6 separate regions of the Homo sapiens genome follow, and regions 2, 3, 4, 5 and 6 are each linked to region 1. Evidence: fine-mapped expression QTL. A gene starts in region 1. Each other region holds a variant in brackets. All regions are shown on one strand. Distances are between the middles of the regions.

Region 1 (5,475 bases):
AAAATTTGCCCGGGGTGGTGGCACACGCCTGTAGTCCCAGCTACTCAGGAGGCTACAGTGGAAAAATAGCTTGAAACTGAGAGGCAGAGGTTGCAGTGAGCCGAGATCTCACCACTGCACTCCAGCCTGGGCAACAGAGCGAGACTCCCTCTCAAAAAAACCAAAAAAGTGATTGGTAAATGTTGCCAATGAGACTGAAGTACTTCCTAAAGTAAGTGGCATTAGGGAGCTGCCAACCTGTGGCTATGGCTGTGTTCCTTGTAAAATATAATCTTTTTCTTTTTTTTTTTTTTTTGAGACAGTTTTGCTCTTGTCACCCAGGCTGAAGTGCAATGGCGCAATCTTGGCTCACTGCAACCTCTGCCTCTCAGGTTCAAGCGATTCTCCTGCCTCAGCCTCCCAAGTAGCTGGGATTAGAGGCACGTGCCACCACACCTGGCTAATGTTGGGTTTTTAGCAGAGACAGGGTTTCACCATGTTGGCCAGGCTGGTCTCAAACTCCGACCTCAAGTGATCTGCCTGTCTCAGCCTCCCAAAGTGCTGGGATTACAGGCATGAGCCACCGTGCCCCATCATAAAATATAATCTTGACAACTGAAGCAGTTATTACTACAAAGCTAAGAATGTTGCAATTACAGAATGTTCTCGTGACTAGTGAACATGGCTGAAGAAGCAAATTGAGCTCAAGGTGCCCTTTTCTGAGTTACTGAGTGGAAAGGGTGCTACCACTGCTGGAGCTGCAGGACCAGCTTCTTAAAGATCATCCAATTCACTGCATTCTCTTCTCTCTCCTCCCAGAATCCAGCAATCAGTCATAAGATATATTTGTTGGCTCTCCTGCTAAGAAGCGAATGTGCTGACTAGCTAGCATGAGTTTGATTCAATAAAACAGCACTACACTCCATTAGTCAGACTATCTAATGATAACAGTGCTCATACATTAGGTACCCACGTGCCTTTTTGTTGCTCTTCACAATACTCCTATGAAGTACTACCTTGTATTTGACAGAAGATAGCAAAGTATCAGAGAAGGGAACTGACCTGTCTAGAGTCACACTAGTGAAAGCAAGTGATACAGGATTTAAATTCAGAGGTTCCATTTTCCAAACTCATGTCCTTTCCATTGCATTGTACTCCCTCTTTAGCTAGAAGTCAGGTTAGCACCAATCTGCCGGGACCTTCTCACCCCGAAGGTGCATGATAAAATCAAATATGAGAACCGACAAGGCCAAGGACCAGGTCACTCTGCCAAAAGTGCCTAAAACAGCCTTTCAGCTTCATCCATCAGCAGACAGCCACAAAACCACTCCCAACTGCAGCAGGCTGGTCTCCGGTCACCACTGTCTTATCTTGTCGGAAAACATCCTCTCTCCATGTGCCAAAAAGTTGAGTGGGAAAATAATTCCATCCTTTCAGAGCTAAACACTGTGCTGAGTCTCATCGCACACGGGTGGGCAAAGAAAGTTGACATTTACTGCTCACCCACTCTGTGCCTTGACCTGTGCAAGATGCTTTATGCTAGAACTCATTTAATTCTCAAGAACAACCTCATTTTACAGATAAGGATACAGAGGCTCTAAGAGTTAAATTTACCCAAGAGGACATGGTAAGTAAGTGCCAGTGCAGGGAACAAATTCAGGTCCCACTCTAAAATCTGTCTCTTTCCAGATCTCAAGGCACACCACTGAGTTGCCTTTCACCTTTCTCCCAAGATGAGGATTGCTCTGGCATGACTTCACCTTTCTCTTCTGAAGCAATTCCAAGTTCACTTCTCTGCCCACTGACAGTTCACTCTCCTTTCCCTGCCACTGTCCCTTCTGCAAACGCACAATCTTTTACCCAACCTAACGCCCCCAGCCTCGTAGAATAACACTGCGCAGTTGGTTTACAGTCACAAAGCACTTTCAAGACAGTGTTTCGTCTCCTGGTCACCACAGTCCGGTGAAGCCGGCAAAGCAGATAAAAGCATCCCCATTTTACAAGAAAGCCATCTTCCCAAGGTCGCGGAATAAAAAGCAGGTGAAATCGGAAGCAGAACCCCAGGTCTTGACCCCTGGTCCTCGGCTCATCCCACTGCTCCGCACAGCCGCCCACGATCCAGCCTCCACCTCCGCGATGTCACAAGATGCTCCCTGGGCCAGCAGCTCACATCCCCCACCCCCATCCCACAACCACCCACCTGCAGCGGCCCTGCAGGCCCCGCCGACCCTTCCCCCACGGTCCCTCTCTCTTCACCAGCCCCTCCCACTAGGGCCTCCTTCCCCCGCTAGATCCCTCCGCTCAGGCGCCCCCTCCCGCACAGGCTGCCGGCGAGCCCAGCCTCGGCCTCCCACAGACCCTCGTCCCGCCTCCACGCTTCGTCACCCCAGCCCCTCCTCCTGTCAGCCCGCGGCCCAGCCCGCCGACGTTACCTTCTCCAAGGATGCTGGTCTCTGCACCGCCAGGGAGCGGGCCAGTGACAGGACCGTGTTGAAATAGAAGCCCCGCGAGGCGCTGGAGCCGGAGCCGGAGCAGCCGCCGCCGCCTCCGCCTCCGCCTCCGCCTCCCCGGGCCGGGGCCGCCGCCATCACCTCACGAGCCGCGGCGCTGCCCGCCGGCTCCCCGCTCCTGGCCCGCGAGCGCCCGACCTCAGGGCGCAGGCGTAGGTGCATCCGGCTTTCCCGCCACGTGACCTCTCAGTTGCTGACACTAGATAGGGCGTGGCTGCGGGGCGGGCCCACCGCTGCAGGGGAGAGAGGGGATGGACAGTAGGCTGCGGTTGCGCGCGCCGGATGTGGGCCCCCCCCAGCCGACCTGCGCGATGGTCGGCTCCGAGGGCGGGGCCACCTGCGCGCGACGCGCGGAAGGAGTTCGCGCGACGACCGCGGGGTCGGCGGGCGGGGCGAGGCCCTGGACGGCGGCGGCAGTGGGGCTCCTCCTTCTGTTTCCCAGACCGAGAGCCGCGCCGGCACCATGTCAGCTTACCCTAAAAGCTACAATCCGTTCGACGACGACGGGGAGGACGAAGGCGCCCGGCCGGCCCCTTGGAGGGACGCCCGAGACCTCCCCGACGGGCCCGACGCGCCCGCGGACAGGCAGCAGTACTTGCGGCAGGAGGTCCTCCGCAGGGCTGAGGCCACGGCCGCCAGCACCAGCAGGTCCCTGGCCCTCATGTACGAGTCCGAGAAGGTTGGGGTCGCCTCTTCCGAGGTGAGCCTGGGGCAGGGCTGGTGTGGACTCGCCGGTCTCTGTGCTGTCAAACGGAGACGAGAAATGTTTTGCTCACAATCTTTTGAGAATTCTCAAGTTGCCTAGCATAGATTCTTGCACCTTAGTGACTCGATGGTGGTAACAATCTGTTAACTATGTAAAGGTATGTGCATCTGGAGTACTTGAAGAGGGCAGTTTACCCCAGAAATCTTCCTTAGCTATTAGTCTGCTTCGTTGATTTTTTTTTTCTTACGCCTAGCTCACGGGGAAACGCCAGATTATTTTCTGTCCAGGTGAGTAAAAATTCTGAACAGCAGGTCCTAGGTTTGGGAAATGGAGAGTCCGTTTCTTCGACATTATTTCCTGTGCAAAATCTGGCACAGGGTTTTGGCCATTCCTTCCGGAGTGAGCCAGAAAGAGAGGACTATGTGCCTGCGAGTGTCAGGTGATACCCTGAAGCATCAGGGCAGGTGGTCCACGAGTTCTTCCCGCATCATTGACATCTCCACCTAACCAACCAATAGAGGTATTGAAGTCCCTTCAGCCCAGACAGCTGCCTAGTTGACCAAAGCCTGGGTTTGATTGAGTCCAGGGTCTTACCTTTACTTCCCAAATCCTAGACAAATAGTGTGCGGGTTAAGAGTTTGTTGCTCCAACTCATCTTCATCAGTTCTTCCCATCCTTAGATTTCAGAGAGTAGTACCTTCAATAACAATTATTCTGGCCGAGCGCAGTGACTCACGCCTGTAATCCCAGCACTTTGGGAGGCCTAGGCGTCGGATCGCCTGAGCTCAGGAGTTCGAGACCCGCCTGGGCAACATGGTGAAACCCTGTCTCCACTAAAATTAAAAAAAAAAAAAAACTAGCCGGGTGTGGCGGTGCGCCTGTAGTCGCAGCTACTCAGGAGGCTGAGGTAGGAGAATCGCTTGTACCCGGGAGGCAGAGGTTGCAGTTAGCTGAGATCGTGCTGCTGCACTCCAGCATGGGCAACAGACCGAGATCCTGGAGGGTCTTTTTCTTTTTCTTTTTTTTTTTTTTTTGAGATGGAATCTCGCTCTGTCGCCCTTGCTTGGGTACAGTGGCATGATCTGGGCTCACTGCAACTTCCGCCTCCGGGATTCAGACGATTCTCCTGCCTCAGCCTCCCGAGTAGCTGGGACTACAGGTGCGCCGCCACACCCGGCTAATTTTTTTTGTATTTGTAGTGGAGACAGGGTTTTGCCCCGTTGGCCAGGCTGGTCTGGAACTCCTGACCTCAGGCAGTCCGCCCGCTTTGGCCTCCCAAAGGGCTGGGATTACAGGCGTGAGCCACCATACCGGTCGAGAATGATTCTTTATTGTACACCACAGTCTCTCTTCAGCCTGCTAATGAAACAGTTTTGTTTGGACAGAGAAAAAAAAAGGTTTAAAAAAATGTATAAGCCAGGCGCGGTTGTACTTCTGTAATCCCAACAATTTGTAAGGCTGAGGTAGGCAGATCATTTTAGCCCAGGAGTTTGAGACCAGCAGGGGTAACTGCGTCTCTACAAAATTTGAAAAATTAGCCAGGCATGGTGGCACACACATGTGAGTGCAGCTACTGAGGAGGCTGAGGCAGGAGGACCGCTTGAGCCCAGGATGTCAAGGTTGCAGTGAGCCATGTTCATACCACTGCACTCCAGCTTGGGCGACAGAGCAACACGCTATCATTTCCCCTTGCTGTTTTCTTGGGTTAATTCCCTTCCCCACCTCTCTCTGTTCATGTATCCCTCATTGATCCACCTCCCTGTGGTTTTTTTTTTTTTTTTTTGAGACAGATTCTCGCTCTGTCACCAGACTGGAGTGCAGTGGCACCAACTTGGCTCACTACAGCCTCCGCCTCCTGGGTTCAAGTGATTCTCCTGCCTCAGCCTCCTGAGTAGCTGGGACTAAGGCGTGCACTACCACACCCAGCTAATTTTGGTATTAATAGAGTTGGGGTTTTGCCATGTTGGCCAGGATGGTCTCGATCTCTTGACCTCGTGATCCACCACCTCGGCCTCCCAAAGTCCTGGGATTATAGGCGTGAGCCACTGCACCTAGCCCACCTCCCTGTGTTTAACTGTTGGTTTTTTATTTTTGTTTTGTTTGAGACAAAGTCTTACTCTGTCACCCAGGCTGGAGTGCGATGGTGTGATCTCGGCTCACTGCAACCTCCACCTCCCCAGTTCAAATGATTCTCCTGCCTCAACCTCCCAAGTAGCTGGGATTAGAGGCACCTGCTACAACACCTGGCTAATTTTTTTGTTTTTGTTTTTGTTTTTGTTT
Region 2 (5,000 bases), 33 kb before region 1:
TGGCTCACACCTATAATCCCAGCACTCTGGGAGGTCGAGGCAGAAGGATCACTTGAGGCCCGGAGTTCAAGACCAGCCTGGGCAACATGGCGAAACCTTGTCTCTACAAAAAATACAAAACAAATTAGCTGGCATGATGGTGCACGCCTATAGTCTCAGCTACTTGGGAGTCTTAGGAGGGAGGCTGGCTTGAGGTGGACGGCAGAGGTTGCAGTGAGCCAAGATTGCACCACTGCACTCCAGCCTGGATGACAGAGCAAGACTGCCTCAAAAAAAGAAAAGAAAATGATCTTCTATGAATGACTTCAATCCCCAACAAAGAGCAAGAAAAATGAGCTGCCTCTGCCTTTTTCTGCCGCCTACCTTAAAGGACTTTCTGAAAAGCTGAAAGGGATAGTGCTGCTCATGTCTCTGCAGCCCCTGCCCTTCATTAGAAAAAAGAAAAAAAAAAAAAGAAAAGTTTAATAAGATAAGACTCGAGATCCTAAAGAGTAGTGAAAGACCTAAGCATGTCTTAGGTCTGCTGTCAACAGGATGAAATAGATAAATATCAACAAACAATTCAATCACATTTCACGTTTTTAAAATCTTTTCATCACTTTGGGACTCTATTCAATCTAATAGAAATGCATACCAAATCAACCAACACATGCTTACCTCATCCCTAAGTGAAGGATCCCTATAGGCCACATCAGACAGCAGAGTTACCAAGCAGAAGCTGAAGCTCTCTGCAACCGGGAGGGCACCTGGAAGATGTAAAAACATAAATCAGATAACCAGGAACCAGATACTGGGTCACACCTCTGGCCATCCAATTCAATATGTTCCCTCTCACCATGACCTGCCAAGGGACCAGTTTACAGCAGCTGCCCTCCTTGAGACGAGTCTCAAAAGAACAGCTATGGGCCCAATGAGTTTGCTGAGAAACACCCTTACCTTTCCTTTAAGTAAATGTTTTGGTTCAATAAACTTAAATGTTTCCTGAGCCAATAGCTAGTGTGAGATAACAAAGCCTCTCAACATGACAGATTCAATTTTTTATTCCCTAAGTAAATGTGATAAATCACACACACACACACACACACACACACACACACACACACACACACACAAAACACTCGGCTGGGCGAAGTGGCTCAAGTCTGTAATCCCAGCACTTTTGGGGGGCCAAGGCAGACGGATCACCTGAGGTCGAGTTCAAGACCAGCCTGGCCAACATGGTGAAACCCCGTCTCTACTAAAAATACAAAAATTAGCTGGGTGTGGTGGCGCACACCTGTAATCCCAGCCACTTGGGAGGCTGAGACAGGAGAATAGCTCGAAGCCAGGAAGTGGAGGTTCCAGTGAGCCGAGATCGCACCACTGTACTCCAGCCTGGGTGACAGAATGAGACGCCATCTCAAAAAAAAAAAAAAAAATCAATTTTGAATATTGAATGTTGAATCAAGGAAAAAAGAGTATCCACTATTTAATAGCTATATTCATAGTACATGACAGAAGACTTACATTTCTACTCCAGCACTTAAAATTTTAAAGTGCAGCTCTAGGCTGTTCTCAAACTTGAATGTGCCCATGCCCGGCCTAAAATTTGACCTTTTAGTAATGATGCTCTATTTAATTTGTAGTCCATCAAATTGCAGGACAGACTGGGTGCAGTGGCTCATGCCTATAGTCCTAGCACTTTAGGAGGCCAAAGCAGGCAGATCACTTGAGGCCAGGAGTTCAAGACCAGCCCAGCCAACATGGCAAAATACTATCTCTACCGAAAATACAAAAATTAGCCAGGCATGGTGATGCATGCCTGTAATCCCAGGTACTTGGGAGGCTGAGGCACGAGAATTGCTTGAACCCAGGAGGTGGAGGTTGCAGTGAACCGAGGTCAGGCCACTGCACTACAGCTTGGAGTGCAGACAGAGTGAGACTGTCTCAAAAAAACAAAAAACAAACAAAATCCTAACAAATTGCAGGTACATGCATAATTTGGGATCTGTCAGTTTTAGGCATGTTACCAGAAATGATGAAAACCCAAAGGTTAAGAGGAATACTGGCACAAACAGAATGTTTTTTAATTTTTATTTCAGGTTCAGGGGTACATACGCAGTTTTGTTATACAGGTAAACTGCATGTTACGGGGGTTTGGTGTACAGATTATTTCATCATCCCCGTAATAAGCATAGTACCCAGAAAGTAGTTTTCCCATCCTCACCTTCCTCCTATTCTCCACTCTTAAGTAGGCCCCAGTGTCTGCTGTTCCCTTCTGTGTTCATATGTACTCGAAGTTTAGCTCCCACTTACAAGTGAGAACATGCAGCGTTTGGTTTCCTGTTGCTGTGCTAATTCTCCCATAACGGTCTCCAGCTCCATCCATGTTGCTACAAAAGACGTGATCTTGGCCAGG[T/C]ATGGTGGCCTCACACTTGTAATCCCAGCACTTTGGGAGGCTGAGGCAGGCAAATAACTTGAGGCCAGGAGTTCGAGACCAGCCTAGCCAACACGGCAAAACTCCATCTCCACTATAAATATAAAAATTAGCCGGGTGTAGTGGCACATGCCTATAATCCCAGCTACTTGGGAGGCTGAGACAGGAGAATCGCTCGAACCTGGGAGGCGAGGGTTGCAGTGAGCAGAGATCGCACCACTGCACTCCAAGCTGGGTGACAGAGCGAGATCGTCTCAAAAAAAGATAAAATAAAATAAAAAATAAAAGGACATAATCTTTTTCTTTTTTTATGGCTACACAGTACTCCACGGTACACATACGACATTTTCTTTATCCAGTCTTCCACTGATGGGCATTTAGGTTGATTCCTTATCTTTGTTATTGTGAATACTGCTGTAATAAACATACTTACGCATGCATCTTTACAGTAGAATGATTTACATTCCTTTGAGTATATACCCAATAATGGGATTGCTGGGTCAAATGGTAATCCTGTTTTAAATTCTTTCAGAAATTGCCAAACTGCATTCCACAATGGCTGAACTAATTTACATTCACACCAGCAGTGTGTAAGTGTTCCCTTTTCTCTACAACCTCACCAGCATCTGTTATTTCTTGACTTTTTAATAATAGCCATTCTGACTGGTGTGAGATGGTATCTCATTGCAATTTTGATTTGCATTTCTCTGATTATTAGCATCAGATGATGAGCATATTTTTCATATATTTTTGGCCACTTGTATGTCTTCTTTTGAGAAGTATCTATTCGTCCTTGGCTCACCTTTTAACGGGGTTTTTTTTTTGTTTGTAAATTTAAGTTCCTCATAGATTCTGGACTTTAGACCTTTGCATAGTTTGCAAATATTTTCTTTCATTCAGTAGGGTGGCTGTTTACTCTCTTGACAGTTTATTTTACTGTGCAGAAGCTCTTTAGTTTAATTAGGTCCCATTTGTCAATTTTTGTTTTTGCTGCAATTGCTTTTGGCATCTTTGTCATTAAATTTTTGCCATTAAATCTTTGCCAGGGTCTATGTCCAGAGTGGTATTTCCTAGTATCTTCCAGGGTGTTTATAGTTTAAGGTTTTACATCTAGATCTTTAATCCATCTTCAGTTGATTTTTGTATAAGGTGTAAGTAAGGGGTCTAGTTCCAATCTTCCGAATATAGCTAGCCAGTTATCCTAGCGCCATTTATTGAGCAGGGAGTCCTTTCCCCATTACTTGTTTTGTTGACTCTGTTGAAGATCAGATGGTTCCAGGTGTGCAGCATTATTTCTGGGCTCTCTATTCTATTTGTCTATGTGCTATTTTTTTTACCAGTACCATGCTGTTTTGGTTACTGTAGCCCTGTAGTAGAGGTGAAGTTTGAAGTTGGGTAATGTGATGTCTCCAGCTTTACTCTTTTTCAGACTACCTTAGTTATTCAGGCTCTTTTTTGGTTCCATAAAAATTTTAAAATAGTTTTTTTCTAATTCTGTGAAGAATGTCATTGGTAGTTTGATAGGAATAGCACTGAATCCATAAATTGCTCTGGGTAGTATGGCCATGTTAACAATATTGATTCTTCCTATCTATGAGCATGGGATGTTTTTCCATTTGTTTGTGTAAGCTCTGATTTCTTTCAGCAGTATTTTGTAATTCTTGCTATAGAGATTTTTCACCTCCCTGGTTAGCTGTATTCCAAGGTATTTTATCTTTTCTTTTTTTTGAGATGGAGTCTCACTCTGTCGCCCAGGCTGGAGGGCAGTGGCACAATCGCGGCTCACTGCAACCTCCGCCTCCCAGGTTCAAGCGATTCTCCTGCCTCAGCCTCCCAAGTAGCTGGGATTACAGGCGTGCACTACCATGCCCAGCTAATTTTTGTGTTTTTAGCAGAGATGGGTTTCACCATGTTGGCCAGGCTGGTGTCGAACTCCTGACCTCAAGTGATCCACCTGCCTCGGCCTCCCAAAGTGCTGGGATTACAGTCGTGAGCCACTATGCCCGACTGGTATTTTATTATTTTTGTGAATATTGTGAATGGGACTGTGTTCTTGATTTGGCTCTCAGCTTGGATGTTGTTGGTGTATAGGAATGCTTCTGATTTTTGTACATTGATTTTGTATCCTGAAACTTTGCTGAAGTTGTTTATCAGATCAAGGGGCTTTGGGCAGAGACTATAGGGTTTTCTAGGTATAAAATCATATAATCTATGAAAAGAGATCGTTTGACTTCCTCTCTTCCTATCTGGATGCCTTTTATTTCTTTCTCTTGCCTGATTGCTCTGGCCAGGACTTCCAGAACTATGCTGGATAGGAGAGGTGAGAGAGGGCATCTTTGTCTTGTTCTGGTTTTCAAGGGGAATGCTTCGAGCTTTTGACCATACAGTATAATGATGGCTATGGGTTTGTCATAGATGGCTATTATTACTTTGAAGTATGTTCCTTCAATGCCTAGAGTTTGTTGTGGATTTTTTTGGGGTTTTTTTTTGAGACAGAGTCTTGCTCTGTTGCCAGATTGGAGTGCGGTGGCGTGATCTCGGCTCACTGCAACCTCTGCCTCCCGGGTTCAAGCGATTCTCCTGC
Region 3 (5,000 bases), 140 kb before region 1:
GTGCTGAAAGGTGAGAAGTGCCCCAGCAAAGGGTGGGAGTGGAGGGGTCGGTGAGCTGGGGCAGTGCAGGCTGGCGAGAGCCCTGGGGGCTGTAGAAGGTGCTTGGCAGTGCACTGAAGACAGTAAGTGAGGCCTGTGGGAGGACAAAATACTCACGGTCTTTCTGGTGGCCCTCTTCATCTAGATAAATGTTAGTCTTCATGTTCCAGATGAACTGGTGTGCCAGAAGCTGGGATTTAGACGCTGCCCACAGAATATACTCCCGCACATAGCCCATCTGCAGGAGAGCAAGGTCCCTGTCAGCCAGGCTCGGCCCTCTCCATGAGGAGGGCCTTGTCAGCAGCTGCTGACTCCCGGCATTTGGTAGACCAGGCAAGGGTAAGGCCCGGTGGCTCTAGTGGTGTGGACAAGCTCTCCAGGATTGATGTTGAGTCCAGCCAGTGGCCAGGCCAAGTTCCAGCTGGCTGGGGGCTGGGACCTGGGGGGCAGGGTTGCAAAGCGGGCGACAGTCAGCCTTTGTCTCCTCTGTGTCTTCCCATGGGTTTAAGAAGCACAACTCTCAAACCAATTTCTGGAGTTGTCAAGTACGAGAAAAAGCAGGCTGGGTACTAAAAACTCACTTGTGAGCTGGTTGTTTAGAACAATGTTCCAAAGTGACAGACAGGTTCCAGAAACATGCAGAGATACCTCCTTCACAAACTGACACACTGATATGATTAGGTTTTGTGTCCCCACCCAAATGTCATCTTGAATTGTAATCCTCAGGTGTTGAGGAAGAGACCTGGTGGGAGGTGACTGGATCATGGGGACGGTTCCCCCTTGTTGATCTCATGACAGCGAATGAGTTCTCAGGAGATCTGATGGTTTTATAAATGTTTGACAGTTCCTCCTACACACACACTTGCTCTCTTTCGCTTGCTGCCAGGTAAGACGGACCTACTTCCCCTTCCACCATGATTCTGTTTCCTGAGGCCTCCCCAGCCACGTGGAACTGTGAGTCAATTAAGCCTCCTTTATAAATTACCCAGTCTCGGGAAGTTTTTTTGTTTGTTTGTTTGTTTTTGAGACAGAGTCTCGGTCTGTCACCCAGGCTGTAGTGCAGTGGTACAATCTCAGCTCACTGCAACCTCCACCTCCCAGGTTCAAGCAATTCTCTTGCCTCAGCCTCCCGAGTAGCTGGGATTACAGGCGCACACCACCACATCTGGCTAATTTTTGTATTTTTAGTAGAGACAGGGTTTCGCCATGTTGTTCAGGCTGGTCTTGAACTCCTCACCTCAGGTGATCCACCCACCTCAACCTCCCAAAGTGCTGGAATTACAGTTATGAGCCACCGCACCTGGCCAGGAAGTTCTTTATAGCAGTGTGAAAATGGACTAATATACACAACTGTGGTCACCATCCTAAGGACCTATCCTCCTCTTCCTTCTTGGTCATTTTCCGCCACTCATAGTAGTAACTCCAGTTTTTCTTTTTAATTAAAAAAATTTTTTTTGTTCCTAGAGCCATAAGTTTTGAAACTCCAGTTTTAATTCCATGCCCTAGGTTTAAAAAGGTGAGCTGGCCTTTCTGGGCAGCCTCCTGGAGTCTGTGGCCACTGATCTGGTGAAGTGTCCCTTGGATGGACATTTTTGACCTGGGTGAGTCGGGGGTGGTCTTACCACACAGGCAGAAGTCTTCACTTTGGGTTTCCCAATTCTAACCCGGCAAATGGATCTAAAGACAAACTATGAATGTTCAATGTGTAGTGTTTTTAAATATAAGTTTGCTTTTTAATTATGTAAACACTGACAGAGTTCCAAAGTCAAAATTATTAAATATGGTACATATCTGTCAGTTCCATCCTGATCTCTCCCTCTTTGGCCATTTTTATTAACTTTTGATTTACTGTTCCTTTTTTTTTTTGAGACAGAGTCTCGCTCTGTCTCCCAGGCTGGAGTGCAATCTCAGCTCACTGCAAGCTCCGCCTCCCGGGTTCACGCCATTCTCCTGCCTCAGCCTCCCGAGTAGCTGGGACTACAGGTGCCCACCAAGCCTGGCTAATCTTTTTTTGTATTTTTAGTAGAGACGGGGTTTCACCGTGTTAGCCAGGATGGTCTCGATCTCCTGACCTCGTGATCCACCCGCCTCGGCTTCCCAAAGTGCTGGGATTACAAGCGTGAGCCACCGCGCCCGGCCTACTGTTCCCTTTTTTTGTAAAAGTATAAACAAATATGTATATACATTTGTATTGCCATAGTGATATAAATTTTTTTAAACTTAAAAAATATTCCAGGCTGGGTGTGGTGGCACACGCCTGTAATCCCAGCATTTTGGGAGGCCGAGGCAGGTGGATCACCTGAGGTCAGGAGTTTGACACCAGCCTGACCAACATGGGGAAACCTCATGTCTATTAAATACAAAAATAGGCTGGGTGTGGTGGCTCACGCCCGTAATCCCAGCACTTTGGGAGGCCAAGGCAGGTGGATCACCTGAGGTTAGGAGTTCGAGACCAGCCTGGCAAACATGGTGAAACCCTGTCTCTATTAAAAATATAAAAATTAGCCAGGCGTGGTGGTACACGCTTGTAATCCTAGCTACTCGGGAGGCTGGGGCAGGAAAATCACTTGAACCTGGGAGGTGGAGGTTGCAGTGAGCC[G/A]TGATCGTGCCACTGCACTCCAGCCTGGGCAACAAAGACTCTATCTCAATAAATAAATAAATATTTATTATTTTTTTGAGACGGAGTCTCACTGTATAGCCCAGGCTGGAGAGCAGTGGCATGATCTTGGCTCACTGCAAGCTCTGCCTCCCGGGTTCATGCCATTCTCCTGCCTCAGCCTCCCAAGTAGCTGGGACTACGGGCTCCCGCCATCACACCTGGCTAATTTTTTGCATTTTTAGTAGAGACGGGGTTTCACTCTGTTAGCCAGTATGGTCTCGATCTCCTGACCTCGTGATCCGCCCGCCTCAGCCTCCCAAAGTGCTGGGATTACAGGCGTGAGCCACTGCGCCTAGCCATTAATTAATTAAAATAATTAACCAGGTGTGGTGGCACATGCCTGTAATCACAGCTGCTTGGGAGGCTGAGGCAGGAAAAGTGCTTGAACCTGGGAGGCAGAGGTTGTAGTGAGCTGAGATCACACCATTGCACTCCAGCCTGGGCAACAAGAGCGAAACTCTGTCTAAAAAAAAAAAAAAATTCTGGCTGAGCGCAGTGGCTCATGCCTGTAATCCTAGCACTATGGGATGCCAAGGCAGGTGAATCACCTGAGGTCAGGAGTTTTGAGACCAGCCTGGCCAACATGGTGAAACCCTGTCTCCACTAAAAATACAAAAAATAAGCCGGGCGTGGTGGCATGCACCTTCAATCCCAGCTACTTGGGAGGCTGAGGCAGGAGAACTGCTTGAATCTGGGAGGCAGAGGCTGCAAGGAGCCGAGAATGCCACTGCACTGCAGCCTGGGCAACAGAGCGAGACTCTGTCTAAAACAAAACAAAACGAACAAAAAAAAATTCCCTAAAAATGGAAAGCAAGAAAGAAACCAGTGAAACTAGCTGAGTCCTGAGTTGGTACAACCACACACAGAAGAATCATTTCAGGCGGCCTTTCTCTGGTAGCCACCACCAAGAGTTCACACGGAGGCCCTGGGTACTGGCTCCCCTCCCCACTGCCTCTGGATCTCACCCTTATGCTAGGCCTGTATGCAAGCAGAGAGCCAAGCAGTCAAGGGAAAATAATGTGGGAGGGGAGCCAGGGGGAAGGAAACAGGTTGCTGAAGAGAAGGTGCCTCATGACAATCCTGTAAGTTGCCACCAGTGTGAAGGCTCCGGCTTGGTGAGTGTGGCTCCACACATATCACCACTCAGAGGCGCAGAGAGTGTGGCACTACCTAGTGAGGGCAGTGAATGATTCCACAGGACTCAGTCTTTCAGCAGAGGCTGGCTGCTGTTCTAGAAGCACTTTGGTCTACAGACTCCAAGGCTAGCCCCTGGGACACCCAGCCATGTAACTCAGCCAGCCCACAGGTGGGCCAGAGTGGTGAGGACTCAGCCAGGACACATGGAGTCTGCTGCCCAATTCATCCAGGGAAATGAGGTCAGCCCTGGGGTTGGGGAATAGGGCAGACAAGCTGCACTCAGACACAGGGTGCAGTGGGCAGGCTGGCGCGAGGGCAGAGGCGGCTCGGGCTCCTGGCTGTGGTCATTCCCATGGATATTTTCTGTGCCATGACCTGTGCTGAGCACTTTATGTCCATGGATACTGTTACGGGCTGAACTGTGTCCCTTCAAATTCATATGTTACAGGACCTCAGAATGGTACTGTATTTGGAGATAGGGTCTTTATAGAGATGATTAAGGTAAAATGAGGTCAATAGGGTGGGTCCTAATCTAGTATGACAGGTGTTCTTATAAGGGGAGATTAGGACACAGACACACACAAAAGGATGACCCTGTAAGGACTCAGGGAGAAGATGGCTATCAATAAGCCAGGGAGATGGGCACAGTGGCTCAGGCCTATAATCCCAGCACTTTTGGAGGCGGAGGTGGGCAGATTGCCTGAGCTCAGGAGTTTGAGACCAGCCTGGGACAACATAGCGAAACTCCATCTCTACAAAAAATACAAAAATTAGCTGGGCGTGGTCGCACACGCCTGTCATCCCAGTTACTTGGGAGGGGTAGCGGGGAAGGTGCTGAGGTGGGAGGATAGCTTGAGCCCGAGAGGTTGAGGCTGCAGTGAGCTGAGATCACGCCACTGCACTCTAGCCTGAGTGACAGAGCGAGACCCTGTCTCTTAAAAAAAAAAAAAAAGCCAGGGAGACAGGCCTCAGAAGGAAACAACCCTGTTCGAACAATGACCTTGGACTTCTGGCCTCCAGAATTCATGTTTTTTGTTTGTTTGTTTGTTTTGTTTTTTGGCCTCCACAATTCTGAGAATGAGAATAGACATTTCTGTCGTTTAAGCTGCCCAGTCTGTGGTGCTTCGCTATGCAGCCCTGGCAGACTAATGCATATGTCATCTCG
Region 4 (5,475 bases), 180 kb before region 1:
TGCAACCTCTGCCTCCCAGGCTCAAGTGATTCTCTTGCCTCAGCCTCCTGAGTAGATGGGATTACAGGTGTGCACCACCACACCCAGCTAATTTTTTTTATTTTCAGTAGAGACAGGGTTTTAACTCTGTTGGCCAGGCTGGTCTCAAACTCCTGGCCTCAAGTGATCTGCCCACCTCAGTCTCCTAAAGTGCTGGGATTACAGGTGTGAGCCACTATACCCAGTGCAGTTTCTATTTATTTGTGTTTTAATCTAGGAGGGTTGTATATTTCCAGGAATTTATCACTCTCTCTAAATTTTCTAGTCTGTGCACATAAGGGTGTTCATAGTAGCCTTGAATATATTTCATATTTCTGTGGTATTGGTTGTAATATTTCCCATTTCATTTCTAATTGAGCTTATTTGGATCTTCTCCCTTTTTTTCTTAGTTAATCTCACTAATGGTCTATTGATTTTGTTTATCTCTTAAAAGAATCAGTTTTTTGTTTCATATATCTTTTGTATTTTTGTTTCAATTTTATTTAATTCTGATCTTTATTATTTCTTTTTTCTTCTGGGTTTGGGTTTGGTTGGTTCTTGTTTCTCCAGTTCTGTGAGGTATGACTTTAGATTGTCTATTCATGCTCTTTGATGTAGGCATTTAATGCTATGAACCTTCCTCTTAATTTTGCTGTATCCCAGAGGTTTTAATAGGCTTTGTCACTATTATCCTTCAGTTCAAACAATTTTTTAAATGTTGCATAACAATGTTTATTTAGTTTTACATTTGTTTACAATTTCTTATAAACACTTTTCGTTATAATTTTATACAAACAACAGTAGGAGAAACAAGGAGCTAGAAAACATTAGAAAGTTGAGATTTGGAGGGAAGAATTTTAAAGACTGGAAGTACTAGAGGGAGAGAATCTAGAGAATGAAGGAGGCAATACTTGAAGAGATAACACAATGTTCCAAATTTGTTGGTAAAACATGAATTCGTAAATTCAGGAAACACAATATATACCAAACATATATTTAAATAAAATCCAGGCCTAGACTCAAGGTAGTAGTAAATGACAAGATACCAAACACAAGATTTTAAAAGCAACCATGGGGAGAAAAAGATCATCAATGAAGGCAAGACAGTCAAATCGTAGGCTTCGTAACAGCAACAGTGTACCCAAACAATTATTTTATTTATTTATTTATTTTTTGAGATGGAGTCTCGCTGTGTCGCCCAGGCTGGAGTGCAGTGGCGCAATCTTGGCTCACTGCAAGATCCGCCTCCCAGGTTCACGCCATTCTCCTGCCTCAGCCTCCCACCTAGCTGGGACTACAGGCACCCGCCACCACACCTGGCTAATTTTTTTTTGTATTTTTGGTAGAGACGGGGTTTCATCGTGTTAGCCAGGATGGTCTCGATCTCCTGACCTCGTGATCCGCCCGCCTCGGCCTCCCAAAGTGCTGGGATTATGGGCGTGAGCCACCGCGCCTGGCCATATTTATACTTTTTTAATACCACTAGGCTCAACCCGTATGATATTTTTTGCAGCAGCTTTCTTGAGATGTAATTCACATACCGCATAAATCGCCCATTTAAAATGTACAACCGAGCGGTTTTTAGCGTATTCATAGAGTCGCACATCACCACAATCAATTTTAGAACATTTTTATCACCCCCCAAAGAAATCCACATCCTTTAGCCGTCAACCTCCAATCCTTCCATTTCTCTGCACCTAGGCAATGTATAATCTACTTTCTGTCTGTATAGATTTGGGTACTCCGGATGTTTCACGTAAATGCAGTCATGCGACACGTGATCTTGTGGCTGGCTTCTTTCACTTAGCGCCATGTTTTCTAGTTTCACCCGTTTTCAGCATGTGTCCGTCCTTTTCCTTCTTTTCAAAACAGTTTTATTGAGATGCCATTCACATACCATGCAGTTCATTCATGTAAAGCATCTGTAATTCAATTGCCTTTAGAATATGCACAGTTACGTAGCCATCACCACAATACATTTTAGAACATTGGTATCACCTCAAATTCCTTTTTATTGCCAAATAATATTCCACTGTATGGATATACCACGTTGCATTTATCCACTGGTGGGCATTTTCACTCTTAGAATATTATAAATAATGTTGCTATGGATATTCGTGCACGAGTTCTTGTGGGGACATATGTCTTCATTTCTTTCAAGTATATACCTAGGAATGGAATTAATGGGTTATATGGTAATTCTATGATTAAGCTTTTGAGGAACTGTCAGACAAGCCATG[T/A]GATTGATTGATTGATTTTTAAAGACAGGGTCTTATTGTATTGCCCCAGCTGGTCTCCAACTCCTGAGCTCAAGCAATCCTCCTACCTCAGCCTCTGAATGGCTGGGGCTACAGGCACGTGCCACTGCACCCAGCTGCCATGTGATTTTTTTCTTCCCAATTTTCTCACTGAACATTAATCATGTGTATTTTCATGAATGGTTAAGTGTTCTTTGAGCATGTGGCTTTTAACATTTGCTTTTAACATTTAACATATCCAAATTTTAGTTGGCCAATCCCCTGTTATTGGGGACACTTCCAATTTTCATTATGATAAACAGCATTTCCATGGGCATCTTTTTTTTTTTTTTTTTGAGACAGAGTTTTGCTCTTGTTGCCCAGGCTAGAGTGCAATGGTGAGAACTGCAGCCTCCACCTCCAGGATTCAAGTAATTCTCCTGCCTCAGCCTCTTGAGTAGCGGGGATTACAGGTGTGCGCCATCATGCCTGGCTAATTTTGTATTTTTAGTACAGCTGGGGTTTCACCATGTTCGTCAGGCTGGTCTCAAACTCCTGACCTCAAGGGATCCAGCCACCTAGGCCTCCAAAAGGGCTGGGATTACAGGTGTGAGCCACTGCGTCCGGCCCCATGAGCATCTTTAGGCATCAATCTTTTATGCATCTCTGGTTATTTCTCTAGAGCACATTAGTCAAATGATTGTATCAAAGGGCACAGGCAGTTTTGAGGCTCTCAGTGCATGATGATATATTGCTTTCCAAAAAGGCTGTGCCCGTTTGCATTCTCAAAAGTAGAGTGTGCACCCCTCCTTATATTTTAATAGTTTCCTGAGGTCATCAGAACATGAACATGGGGAGGGCAGGGACTTGCTTGGGCATCTTGGATACCATGCCCAGTTGAATGTGCAGTACTTAGTAGGGGTTTGTGTGACAGGAATGAGTGAGAGCACATGAAGGCCCAGATGAGTGCAGGGTCCGTGGGGCACAGAGGAGGGTACAGGTGTGTGAGCACCGTGTGGACTTAGCACACGGCTGACGTGAGGACTCAGTGCAGACACAAGTGGTAACAAGGCCTCGTGAATCAAAGAGCTCCTCAACCTGGAGGTCGAAGCAGCTGATTGGAGATGAGGAAGCCACACTCCAAGGTCACTTAGGGACAGACGCTGGCAGGGCTGATCTGAAGACTGGCAGCAACTCCTTTTTATACTCCACTCTGCAAGCGCCAGTCTTTATGCAGAGTTCTGGAAGAATTCCCTTCACTGAGCTAGCAAGGCCATCAAACTCTGCGTTCACCTGGATATCCTAAGGAGACACCCATTACAAGGATGAACTTTGTTACTATCTGAGAACTTCACCATTTTTCACTCACACACGCAAGGTCTCAGAGAAGCTCCTTCGGGCGGCTTCTCCCCTGTGGATGACAGTCTCATACCCGCAAACTAGTAAGATCCAGGAGAGAAGGGGACAATGGGGGATGTTTAGAGGCCTGCTGTATTTATTTATTTAGAAATGGGATCGTACTGTGTCACCAGGCTGGAGTGCAGTGGCTCAATCGTAGCTCTCTTCATCCCTGAGCTCCTGGACTCAAGCTATCTATCCTCTTGCTTAAGCCTCCAGAATAGCAGGGACTACAGGTGCCCACCACCATGCCCGGCTATGCTGTATTTCCAGATCTGGGGGCTGGTTACATAGACACCTATGCTGTTTGTGAAAATTCTCCAAGCTCTATGCTTAATCTTTGTGCATTTTTCAGCATAGATGTTGTTCCTCAATTAAAAACAAAAAACCAAGGGGTTGTGAAGAACAGAACTGGCACTGATGGAGTCCTTCTCTGTGCAAGGCCTTTCCCTTAGGTCTGTCATCTCAGCTTATGTTCATGATGGCCTTGCGGGGTAGACGTTAGCCCCATTTCACAAAAACACAAGTCTGAGCCCAGGGAAAGATTTTCCTTGAACTATAAGTCTTCAAAACTATTTCCCTCAAAGCTCAGAATAAAATCTGGGCTAGTCAGATTATACTAGTGATAACAGATAACAACAGTTAAGGAATAGAAGGTAGAATATTCAATTCAGGCTAATTGTTTTTCTTTGTTTTTTTGTTTTTTGGGTTTTTTTGAGGTAGAGTCTCGCTCTGTCACCCAGGCTGGAATGCATTGGCATGGTCTCGGCTCACTGAAACCTCCGCTTTCTGGTTCAAGCAATTCTCCTGCCTCAGCCTCCCGAGTAGCTGAGGTTACAGGTGAGCACCACCACATCCAGCTAATTTTTCTTCTATCTTTTACAACACAGAGTTTCACTCTTGTTGCTCAGGCTGGAGTGCAATGGCACGATCTCGGCTCACTGCAACCTCTGCCTCTGGGTTCTCCTGGAGGTGATTCTCCTGCCTCAGCCCCCTGAGTAGCTGGGATTACAAGTGCATACCACTATGCCCGGCTAATTTTTGTATTTTTAGTAGAGACAGGGTTTCACCATGTTGGCCAGACTGATCTCGAACTCCTGACCTCAGGTGATCTGCCTGCCTCGGCCTCCCGAAGTTCTGGGATTACAGGCATGAGCCACCAACTCCGGCCAAATTTTTGTATTATTAGTAAAGACAGGTTTTGCCATGTTGGCCAGGGTGGTCTTGAACTCCTGACCTCAGGTGATCCACCTGCCTTGGCCTCCCGAGGTCCTGGGATTATAGGCGTGAACCATCATGCCCATCCCAGGCTAGTTATTGATTGATCGTTTATGATTCTTTGACTCAGAATCTTGTCCAGGATCTCACACTGATAGACACAGGATTTGGTCCCAACCCTGAACTGATTCCAAAGCCCATGGCATTCCCACGAGACTAGGGGCTTCTGATAATGACCATACATTGTGACAAGTAAGTGTATATTTGGGCAGGATAATGCCATATGACATTCTATTTCTTTTAGAATGACAGATCCAGTGCTGACAGGAATTCTCAGAGCAGCAGGCACATGGTTAAGGCAAGAACAGGCCATTAGAAGGAAATGGTAAGGACGTTTGACATCGGTTGTCCCAAACCTGAAGAATTGAAACTACACAGACACATTTCTGGAAAGGCTTTCACTCAAGTCTGGGTTGAAAAAAATCAGGGTTAGAATCAGCACTGATTTGTAACTCAATTTTTTTGTTTCCTTCCCTTTTTTTTTGAGATAGAATCTGGCCCTGTTCCCCAGGTTGGAGTGCAGTGGCACAATCATAGCTCACTG
Region 5 (5,475 bases), 450 kb before region 1:
CGTACTGAGCACTGCCTGTGTGCTGAGACCTGTTCTGGGATACAACAGGGAACAAACCTGGCCACTGGGACCAAATGGTCACCTGCTGATGGGGATGGGGAGGCAGGAATAGAAATATTGAGCCATTGGTGTTGGCTGGGCAGCCGGGGGTGTGGGATTGGGGGCAGGGGGCCACCAGGGAAGGGGCAGCTGGCGTTGGTCAGTGTCAGGGTCAGCATGAGCATCAGCATCAGGGCCAGCGTCAGCGTCAGGGTCAGAGCCAGCATCAGTGTCAGGGCCAGCGTGAGCATCAGCATCAGGGCCAGTGTGAGCATCAGTGTCAGGGCCATCATCAGCGTCAGGGTCAGAGTCAGCATCAGCATTAGGGTCAGCATCAGCGTCAGGGTCAGGGTCAACGTCAGCGAGGGCTTCCAGGCTGTGGCCAAGATGGCAGCCCTCCGTAAGGGAAAGGGGACTGGGGTGGGTGTTGAGCAGAAGGTAGTCTGCTTTTCTTCTCCAACATTCTTTTTGTAGACTTCTCTTCTGAGTTGGTTGATAAATAAGTGGTAAATTCGGCTTAATTTATTGGACAGTGACTGCTGAGCATGTTAGGTGTCTAGAAAGCTCGAGAAACACCTTTCTGTGGGAAAGGCAGCCGATAAGCTGTGGAGCACAGAACACGGGGGTCGGGGAAGGCAGCCCCTCCTCCATCCCCCTCCACTGCCACATACCACCCAGCCCCAACCTGCAACAGTGGCTGCAGCCCCAGCTTTCTGGTCTTTATTTCTCACCCCAGCCTCTGATGCTTGCTTTGTCCTCTTTAACAAGATTACAGGTTTCAAAAAATTCATATTTTTGTTTGATTCATATATGAATATACTGAAAATGAGGCTGAAAGGTTACTGAAATCCTGCATAATCTTTCCACCCAGAGATGACGGTTCTCTAATAACTGACCATGTCACTGATTCCTCTGGGCCCTTCCTCTGTGTGCGGATAGACTTCTAAAGCTACATGTGGCCAGGCGTGATGGCTCACACCTGTAATCCCAACACTTTGGGAGGCCGAGGCAGGCAGATCACCTGAGGTCAGGAGTTCGAGACCAGCCTGACCAACATAGAGAAACCCTGTCTCTACTAAAATTACAAAATTAGCTGGGCATGGTGGTGCATGCCTGTAATCCCAGCTACTTGGGAGGCTGAGGCAGGAGAATCGCTTGAACCCAGGAGGCAGAGGTTGCGGTGAGCTGAGATCGTGCCATTGCACTCCAGTCTGGGTAACAAGAGTGAAATTCCATCTCAAAAAAAAAAAAAAAAAAAAATTAGCTGGGCGTGGTGGTGAGCACCTGTAATCCCAGCTACTCTGGAGGCTTAGGCAGGAGAATTGCTTGAACCCGGGAGGCAGAGGTTGCAGTGAGCCATGATCGCACCATTGCACTCCAGCCTGTGTGACAGAGCTAAACTCCATCTCAAACAAATAAATAAATAAAGCCTTATGCACCCTCGGAAGCACAGCACTCACGCCGGAGTCTGGCTACCACACTGGCCATGGCATAGTGAGCGTCCTCACGTGATGTTTACTGATTGCACAGTATCCCTTAGATGAATGTGCCCTGCTGTGTTGTTGGCCCTATTGCTGCCAAAACAACTTTTTTCTGGCCTGGGCCTCTTCTCTCTGCTCTGTGCAACTTCCCTAGACTCTTACCTCTCACTTGGTGTGGATGTGGTCTACACTATAGCAACACCAGCTGAGCTGCAGCCCTGTGTCACTGACCATCTCGTGGGCCTCTGCTTGCATGTCTAAAACCAGACTTGGAACTGGCCCTTCCTCCTCCTTTATAAAAGCTTCCACCATCCACCCAGGCTTGGGTGTTTGCTGAGGTCTCATCCTCTCCCCCATTTCCTCTCTTGCCACCTTCAGTCAACAGCTAGGGCCATCAGTTTTAGCACCTAAATGGCTCTTAGATCTGCTGCTTCCTGTTCATTTTCACAGCCTTGGTTCCAGTCTGAAGTTGCCATTTTTCACCTGAATTATTCAGATGGCCTCCCTAACTGGCCTCCCTAACTGCTGGCTCCAACCACCTTACACACCACCAAAGCCACCTTCAAGACAAACCATTATGCCAGGCACAGGGACTCACACATCTAATCCCAGCACTTTGGGAGGCCAAGGCAGGAGGACCACTTGAGCCCAGGAGTTGGAGGCTGCAGCGAGCTGTGATTGCACCCCTGCACTGCAGCCTGGACAACAGAGCGAGACTGTGTCCCCGCCCTCTGCTTCCCCCGCCCCCCGTCAAGACACCATATGATCACATCACCCTCTGTGCAAAAGGCCTTTCTTCCCCGGCTGCCCTCTGAGTCAGGCATCTGGTCACCTCGAACCCATCCACCTTGCCAGGGTCACCTCTCAGCCTTCCTGCCTCTGCGTGTCTTGTCTTCATCTTACTGTCTCACCTCTGAGCTTCTGCACATGCTGTTCACTCTCCACCTGGCTACCTGCCATGTGTGCCATGGCCAGTTCCACTTGCCCTGCTCTTCTGCATGTGTTGGGGCCACAGGCAGCACCACCATGCAGCTCTGCCCGCTGCACTAGACTGCTCCCTTTTAAGCCTGGGGAGGACAGAATTAGAAATAAAATCTCCTGCCAGCTCAGAAAACCTTGCTATAGAGATAGAAAAGAAAGAAAGCCTTCTTATTGAATAAGTGTTTAACCAGATGTGGTGTACAGGAGAGAAAGAAACCTCCCCCTTTGACAGAGGAGACACATCCAACCCAGCACACAGGGCAACTGTCTTCACCTAAAGGAAGAGTACAGCTTTTTGGGTTTTGTTTGTTTGTTTGTTTTTTGAGACAGGGTATCCCTCTATTGCCCAGGCTGGGGTGCGGTTGCATGATCATAGCTCGAAGCCTCAACCTCCCTAGGCTCAGGTGATCCTCCCACCTCAGCCTCCTGAGTAGCTGGGACTATAGACAGGTACCATCATTCCTGGCTAATTTTGTATTTTTTGTAGAGGGGTCTCACTGTGTTACCCAGGCTGGTCTTGATCTGGGCTCAAGTGATCCGCCACCTTGACCTCCCAAAGTGCTGGGATTACAGGTATGAGCCACCGCGCCCAGCCTCTTGTAGCTTTTTGACAAGCAGGAAGTTACATCTTGGACTCGACTCTTGGACTAGGCTCATTTTGCTTCTGAAAAGGTTTGCATGCGTCTCGAGACAGAGAAAGCATTTGCAATTCCCAGTGTTCTAAAGGGAAGCGCTGGGGTGTGGGGAGCCCTTTTTTCCTTTTGGCACCACAGACAATTTTTAATTCATTTGTTAGTCCTAGCTACTCGGGAGGCTGAGGCCGGAGAATGGCGTGAACCTGGGAGGCGGAGCTTGCAGTGAGCCGAGATCGCGCCACTGCACTCCGGCCTGGGCGACAGAGCGAGACTCGGTCTCAAAACAAACAAACAAACAAAAAACATGTATTTGTCCTGTGTATTGCGAGCACCTGCCATGGTATTGATACAGAGCAGTCGGTCAGCCGACGTGTCCGTGAATGAGTGTAATCCTCATCAACAGCTCCCAAGCTTGCCCCTTTCTCAGCCCCCTTGGTGCTTGTAGCTGTT[C/T]CTTCCGGGATTCCTTTGGCTTCTCCGCCTCTCCCGGTCTTTGCTCTCTGGTAGCTCCTTCCGTGTTCTTCCTCTCCCTTCTTCCCGCTCTTGCTTGCCCATCTCATCCTGGGCGCTCCCTTCTCTCTGCCTGCACCTTCCAGCCTTGGCCCTGGTGGCCTCTCCTCTCTTTTCTGGGCTTATCTGCATCTCCAGGCCAATTCTCAAATCTGAATTCTAGGCCAGGTTTCCGCTTGCTCACAGAAAATCATTTTCAATATCTTACAGAATGGGAGCTGAAGGCGGTGCCCTCTCAACAGCAGGGCATTTGCAAAGAAGAACCGGCCCAGGAGCCCATCATGGAGCGGCCCCTCGGCGGGGCGCAGGCGTGGGGGCGCCAGGCAGGTGCTCTGCAGAGGAGTCAGGCTGCGCCCTGGGCGCCCGCACCTGCCATGGTCTGGGACGTCCCTGTAGAGGAATTCCCCCTCAGGTGTCCCCTCTTCGCCCAGCAACGCGTTCCCGAGGGGGGACCCTTGCTGGACACACGCAAGAACGTCCAGGCCACTGAGGGCAGAACCAAGGCCCCCGCGAGACTGTGTGCAGGGGAAAACGCCTCCACGCCAAGTGAGCCAGAAAAGTTCCCCCAGGTGCGCCGGCAGCGCGGGGCGGGCGCCGGGGAGGGCGAGTTCGTGTGCGGCGAGTGCGGGAAGGCGTTCCGCCAGAGCTCCTCCCTCACGCTGCACCGGCGCTGGCACAGCCGGGAGAAGGCTTACAAGTGCGATGAATGCGGCAAGGCCTTCACCTGGAGCACCAACCTTCTGGAGCACCGGCGCATCCACACCGGCGAGAAGCCCTTCTTCTGCGGCGAGTGCGGGAAGGCCTTCAGCTGCCACTCGTCCCTCAACGTGCACCAGCGCATCCACACGGGCGAGCGGCCCTACAAGTGCAGCGCCTGCGAGAAGGCCTTCAGCTGCAGCTCGCTGCTCAGCATGCACCTGCGGGTGCACACCGGCGAGAAGCCCTACCGGTGCGGCGAGTGCGGCAAGGCCTTCAACCAGCGTACACACCTCACACGCCACCACCGCATCCACACGGGCGAGAAGCCCTACCAGTGCGGCTCCTGCGGCAAGGCCTTCACCTGCCACTCATCCCTCACCGTGCATGAGAAGATCCACAGCGGGGACAAGCCGTTCAAGTGCAGCGACTGCGAGAAGGCCTTCAACAGCCGCTCGCGCCTCACCCTCCACCAGAGGACGCACACGGGCGAGAAGCCCTTCAAGTGCGCCGACTGCGGGAAGGGCTTCAGCTGCCACGCGTACCTGCTCGTGCACCGGCGCATCCACAGCGGCGAGAAGCCCTTCAAGTGCAACGAGTGCGGCAAAGCCTTCAGCTCCCACGCCTACCTCATCGTGCACCGGCGCATCCACACAGGCGAGAAGCCCTTCGACTGCAGCCAGTGTTGGAAGGCCTTCAGCTGCCACTCGTCCCTCATCGTGCACCAGCGCATCCACACCGGTGAGAAGCCCTACAAGTGCAGCGAGTGCGGCAGAGCCTTCAGCCAGAACCACTGTCTCATTAAACATCAGAAAATCCACTCCGGGGAGAAGTCGTTTAAGTGTGAGAAATGTGGGGAGATGTTCAACTGGAGCTCGCACCTCACTGAGCACCAGAGGCTGCACAGCGAGGGGAAGCCCTTGGCCATCCAGTTCAACAAACACCTGCTCAGCACATACTACGTGCCTGGCAGCCTGCTGGGTGCAGGGGATGCTGGACTGAGGGACGTGGATCCCATCGACGCGCTGGATGTGGCAAAGCTCTTGTGCGTGGTTCCCCCCAGAGCTGGCAGGAATTTCTCCCTGGGGAGCAAACCTCGAAACTAACATGATGTGCTTTGGTGTCAGTAGCTGCTT
Region 6 (5,000 bases), 100 kb before region 1:
TCACAGAAGTTTATATACATACACACAAAACATTAGCAGGAAAATGAGCTTACTTATCCACCAGACCAGATAGATACTTGTCTGCCACCCTCCTTATCCTCTTGTGGATGTGGTTGAAGTTCACCAACAGGAACTGAGCGTGCCGCTCCAGCTCCTCCTCGTTCTCCTTGGTCTTGGCCTAGAGATGCAAAAGAAACAGGTACCGCAGTGCCCCAGATGCCTCCAGCAGACAGACACGCATTCATGCTGGAGAGGCTTACTTTATCCGCCATCATGTTCAGGAAGGCATCGAATACTTTGTCCGCGACTGCAATCACACACTGCATCATCCCTGAAACGAGAAGGTTTCCATGGATAAGGTGCAGCAACAGAGAGAGAATCCTAGCAACTTTCAATCATTTTCTTTTGAAATGATTTTAGACTTACAGAGAGTGGCAAAGACAGCACAGAGCTCCCATATACCCTTCACCTAGCTTCCCTGGATTTTAACATCTGCAGTAACCAGGCTGATGTGTCAAAACTGAGTCAGATATTGATATAATCCTATTACCTAAACTTCAGACTTCGTCTGGATTTCCCAGGTCTCCCACACATGCCCCGCTTCTGTTCCAGCATCCAACCCAGGACACCAGGTGGCATTTAATCTGTGTCTCCTACTCCTGTCCAATATGTGGTGACTCCTCAGTCTGTCAATGTCTTTTGTGACTTTGACACTTTTGAAGAACAGTTATTTTGTTGAATGTCCCCTAATTTAGGTTTGTCTGATGCTTGTCCATGATAAGACTAGGGTTACAGGATTTGAGGGAGAACTCCATAGAGTGGATGTGCCCTTTCTTTTTTCTTTCTCTTTTTTTTGAGATTGAATCTCGTTCTGTTGCCCAGGCTGGAGTGTGGTGGCGCGATCTTGGCTCACTGCAACCTCCGCCTCCTGGGTTCACGCCATTCTCCTGCCTCAGCCTCCTGAGCAGCTGAGACTACAGGTGCCCACCACCACGCCCGGCTAATTTTTTGTATTTTTAGTAGAGACAGGGTTTCACCACGTTGGCCAGGATGGTCTTGATCTCCTGACATCGTGATCCGCCCGCCTCGGCCTCCCAAAGTGCTGGGATTACAGGCGTGAGCCACCGTGTCCGGCCTGGATGTGCTCTTTCTGCATCACGTAAGTGGTATGTGATAACAGTATCTCTTATTACTGGTGAAGCTAACCTTGATCCCTTGGTTTGAGTTACCGTTTTTCCCTTTTTCTATTTTTTTTGAGACAGGGTCTCACTTTGTTGCCCAGTCTGGAGTGCAATGGTGAGATCATAGCTCAGCTGCAACCTTGATCTCCCAGGCTCAAGGGATCCTCCCACCTCAGCCTCCCTGGTGGCTGGGATTACAGATGTACAACACCATGCTCAGCTAATTGATTATTTTTTGTAGAGACTGGGAGTCTCACTATGTAGCCCAGGCTGGTCTTGAACTCCTGGGTCAAGCAATCCTTCTGCCTCGGCCTCCTAAAGTGCTAGGATTACAGGCGTGAGCCACTATGCCCAGTCCCTTTCTCTATTCTTTAGAAGCAAGTCACTAAGGACAGCCCACACTCAGAGCCAAGGAATTAAATGCTACCTCCTGAAGGAAATTTGTGAATGAGAATTACAGCCACCACAGCGATTGATATTTTGGGGAAGATACTTTGAAGTTATGCAGAGATCATGTCTTTTAAGATTTTGCCCCTTCACTTTGGCATCCACGAGTGAATTCTGCCTGCAGTAGTTACTGTGGTTGTCATAGGAATTTTCTATTTCCCTCAATTCTTTCTACTTTTTAAAAAATGTTGGCCAGGCATGGTGGCTCACGCCCATAATCCCAGCACTTTGAGAGGCCGAGGTGGGTGGATCACGAGGTCAGGAGTTCGAGACCAGCCTGGCCAACATGGTGAAACCCCATCTTTACTAAAAATACAAAAATTAGCCAGGCATGGTAGCGTGCCACTGTAATCCCAGCTACTTGGGAGGCTGAGGCAGGAGAATCGCTTGACCCCAGGAGACAGAGGTTGCAGTGAGCTGAGATCATGCCACTGCACTCCAGCCTGGGTGACAGAGCGAGACTCCATCTCAAACAAAACAAAAATTTATTTTTTAGGGACAGGGTATCGCTTTGTTGCCTAGGCTGGTCTTGAACTCCTGGGCTCAAGCAATCCTCCTGCCTTGGCCTCCCAAAATGCTAGGATTACAGGCATGAGCCACCGTGCCCAGCCTCTTCTATTTTTATTAATAGTAACTGGAATTCTGTAAGGAAGGTTCAGCCTTTTTCCCCATTTTTTATTTATTCGGTAGTCTAATCATTACAGAACCGTGGATGTTTATTCGTTGGGTTATAATCCAATACCATTTATTCTATTCAAATCATTCCAGCTTTGGCCACTCGGAGCTCTTTCAGGTTGGCTCCTGTGTCATTCGGACAGGCCCCATGTCTTGTCTTTTCTTCTTCTTTCTTGGCGTGTCCTTACTTTCTGGTGTAACAAGGTGCCCCAGGCTCATCCTGTACAGGCCTCCC[T/C]AGAATCAACCATTTCTCCATGGAGCCCTGGTTCCTTTTATTGGAGAATACTATTTAGAAACCAAGATCTGAGCACCGGATATGCTCATTGTTACAGAGGTGCCAAGTAGGCTGTAAAAGGCAACAGAATGGGCTGGGCACAGTGGCTCATGCCTGTAATCCCAGCATTTTGGGAGGCTGAGGCGGGTGGATCACTTGAGGTCAGGAGTTTGAGACCAGCCTGGCCAACATGGTGAAACCCCGTCTCTACTAAAAATACAAAAATTAGCTGGGCACGGTGGTGCACACCTGTTAATTCCAGCTACTTGGGAGGCTGGGGCATGAGAATCACTTGAGCCTGGGAGGTAGAGGTTGCAGGGAGCTGAGATTGTGCCACTGCACTCTAGGCTGGGTGACAGAGCGACACACTGTCACATAAAAAAAAAAAAAAGAAAAGAAAAAGAAAAAAAGCAACAGAACACAGTGATCATCACAGTGCAGATGAAGAAACTGTAATAAAATGCCAATTCACACTCCATAATGCTGTTTCTCTATCCAGTGTTTTTAATTTGCATGACTACATGCTGGGTCTGCCCTCTGCCTCCAGGCAGAGAGACAAGGCAGGTGCTATCAGCTTGGCACCTCACACCCAGCATGAAGCCTGAGACATAAAGAGGCCTTTCATAGCTATCTGTTATAAGGGTAAGTGGGACCGCAGCAATTTGAAAAGTTATCAGTGTGACCTGGACAGATGCTCAAGGGTAGTGAGAGGCTGCTTTCTTAAGAGGCTGGGTTGGGTGGGTGAAATCTTATTTTGGGCCATGTGTTTAGTATAATAGCTTTTTTTTTTTTTTTTAATTTTTTGAGACAGAGTTTCGCTCATCGCCCAGGCTGGAGCGCAGTGGTGCGATCTCAGCTCACTGCAACCTCCGACGGGTTGCATTCCCAGATTCAAGCAATTCTCCTGTCTCAGCCTCCCGAGTAGGTGGGATTACAGGCATGCGCCACCATGCAGGGCTAATTTTGTATTTTCAGTAGAGATGGGGTTTCTCCGTGTTGGTCAGGCTGGTCTCAAACTCCTGATCTCAAATGATCCACCCGCCTTGGCCTCCCAAAGTGCTGGGATTACAGGCGTGAGCCACCACACCTGGCCTAGTATAATAGTTTTTTCATATAGTTCTTTGGAAACTGAAACTGTAAATTCCTGATAATCAGATAGACATCAGATGCCAATCAATGTCATGTAGTAGCATCTAAGGAGATTAAAAAAAATTTTTTTTTTGAGACGTAGTCTTGCTCTGTTGCCCAGGCTGGAGCGCAGTGGTGTGATCTTGGCTCACTCCAACCTCTGCCTCCCAGGTTCAAGTGATTCTCCTGCCTCAGCTTCCCAAGTAGCTGGGATTACAGTCACCTGCCATCACACCCAGCTAATTTTTGTATTTTTAGTAGAGATGGGTTTCATCATGTTGGCCAGGCTGGTCTCAAACTCCTGACCTCAAGTGATCTGCCCACCTCGGCTCCCAAAGTGCTGAGATTACAGGTGTGAGCTACCACACCCGGCCCTAAGGTAAGTAAGATTTTTACTTTAAAAAGGCCACTCTCCTCTTAACCCCTTAGTTTAGCTCTGGATTACTGGTGAACTGACTCACAGGATGGTGGGCAGGTGAGCAGCAGGCTCCTGCCCTCACGTTCCTGTGCAGCTGAGAACATAACAGAGGCTCATCTTATACCTGCAGAGAGGAGGCAGAAGTCCCCACTTTAGTGGGGCTGCTAGATATTTCATATACCCTCTCCTCCTGGTAGGTTCTGAAAATTCAAGAATAATATATGTCTCCAAAGACATTTCCTTCTTATCTTTCATGTTTTAGAGGAAAAATATAAGAGGGATATACACTCAATAGCTGTACATTTACTGGCTAAGTGCCACGCTCAGAACAAAAATAATCAGTTTGAAACCATGTGGAAGAGTACAATGTACTGCAAAAATGAAAATCGCTTTATTTTGAATTAAGGTGAGGAGGAACAATCAGTCCCCCGGAACAATTTAACGTCCTCTGATGTCACAGGAACAGAAAAACAGAGCTCAGAGAGAAGGGCGAATGAGACATCTCACTTCAGAAAGGGATCTGATTCGGTTTATGAATATTCTCTAGAAGGCTGGCAAAATCTGCTAGGTTCTCCTTCCTTTTTTTTTTTGAGATGGAGTTTCACTCTGTCTCCCAGGCTGGAGTGTGTGGTGTGATCTCAGCTCACTGCAACCTCTGCCTCCCAGGTTCAAGTGATTCTCCTGCCTTGGCCTCCCAAGTAGCCAGGACTACAGGCACACGCCACCGCACCTGGCTAATTTTTGTATTTTTAGTAGAGATGGGGTTTCATCATGTTGGCCAGGCTGGTCTCGAACTCCTGACATCAAGTGATCCACCCACTTCAGCCTCCCAGAGTGCTGGGATTACAGGCGTGAGCTACCGCACCCAGCCTTTTTC

Alleles and levels. Alleles are on the strand shown, and positions count from the first base shown. SD is a standard deviation of normalised expression in the study named. Not every link is listed here.
As copies of T replace A in region 4, the expression in esophagus mucosa of the gene that starts at base 2,653 in region 1 goes down (moderate effect, 0.41 SD a copy in GTEx).

Evidence for each region. PIP is the estimated chance that this variant, and not a neighbour inherited with it, causes the effect. A credible set is the group of variants that fine-mapping cannot tell apart.
Region 2: its variant is the best candidate, but not a certain one, in a credible set for the expression of PI4KA in whole blood (INTERVAL, PIP 0.84).
Region 3: its variant is the best candidate, but not a certain one, in a credible set for the expression of PI4KA in whole blood (TOPMed, PIP 0.53).
Region 4: its variant is the best candidate, but not a certain one, in a credible set for the expression of PI4KA in esophagus mucosa (GTEx, PIP 0.72).
Region 5: its variant is the best candidate, but not a certain one, in a credible set for the expression of PI4KA in skeletal muscle (FUSION, PIP 0.51).
Region 6: its variant is the best candidate, but not a certain one, in a credible set for the expression of PI4KA in whole blood (TOPMed, PIP 0.56).

The regions. Positions count from the first base shown.
Region 1 is chr22:20,856,159-20,861,633 of GRCh38, forward strand. It overlaps PI4KA (phosphatidylinositol 4-kinase alpha), which reads right to left and starts at 2,653. Exons shown (of 55, transcript NM_058004.4): 1 at 2,412-2,653. The coding sequence starts at 2,567. It overlaps SNAP29 (synaptosome associated protein 29), which reads left to right and starts at 2,849. Exons shown (of 5, transcript NM_004782.4): 1 at 2,849-3,189. The coding sequence starts at 2,953. RefSeq lists silencers at 2,262-2,311, 2,332-3,091 and an enhancer at 2,771-3,580.
Region 2 is chr22:20,823,669-20,828,668 of GRCh38, forward strand. PI4KA (phosphatidylinositol 4-kinase alpha) reads right to left here. Exons shown (of 55, transcript NM_058004.4): 4 at 658-746. Among named protein-coding and RNA genes, the nearest start is that of PI4KA, 33 kb to the right of the region's middle. The variant T/C (reference allele first, on the strand shown) is at 2,399.
Region 3 is chr22:20,721,142-20,726,141 of GRCh38, forward strand. It overlaps PI4KA (phosphatidylinositol 4-kinase alpha), which reads right to left. Exons shown (of 55, transcript NM_058004.4): 43 at 157-277. Among named protein-coding and RNA genes, the nearest start is that of SERPIND1, 50 kb to the right of the region's middle. The variant G/A (reference allele first, on the strand shown) is at 2,639.
Region 4 is chr22:20,677,178-20,682,652 of GRCh38, forward strand. No RefSeq gene overlaps it. Among named protein-coding and RNA genes, the nearest start is that of SERPIND1, 94 kb to the right of the region's middle. The variant T/A (reference allele first, on the strand shown) is at 2,259.
Region 5 is chr22:20,401,524-20,406,998 of GRCh38, forward strand. ZNF74 (zinc finger protein 74) reads left to right here. Exons shown (of 5, transcript NM_003426.4): 5 at 3,854-5,475. The coding sequence ends at 5,445. Among named protein-coding and RNA genes, the nearest start is that of ZNF74, 10 kb to the left of the region's middle. RefSeq lists enhancers at 3,507-3,676, 3,774-3,943 and cis regulatory regions at 3,592, 3,859. The variant C/T (reference allele first, on the strand shown) is at 3,587.
Region 6 is chr22:20,752,850-20,757,849 of GRCh38, forward strand. It overlaps PI4KA (phosphatidylinositol 4-kinase alpha), which reads right to left. Exons shown (of 55, transcript NM_058004.4): 24 at 261-331; 25 at 54-178. Among named protein-coding and RNA genes, the nearest start is that of SERPIND1, 19 kb to the right of the region's middle. The variant T/C (reference allele first, on the strand shown) is at 2,539.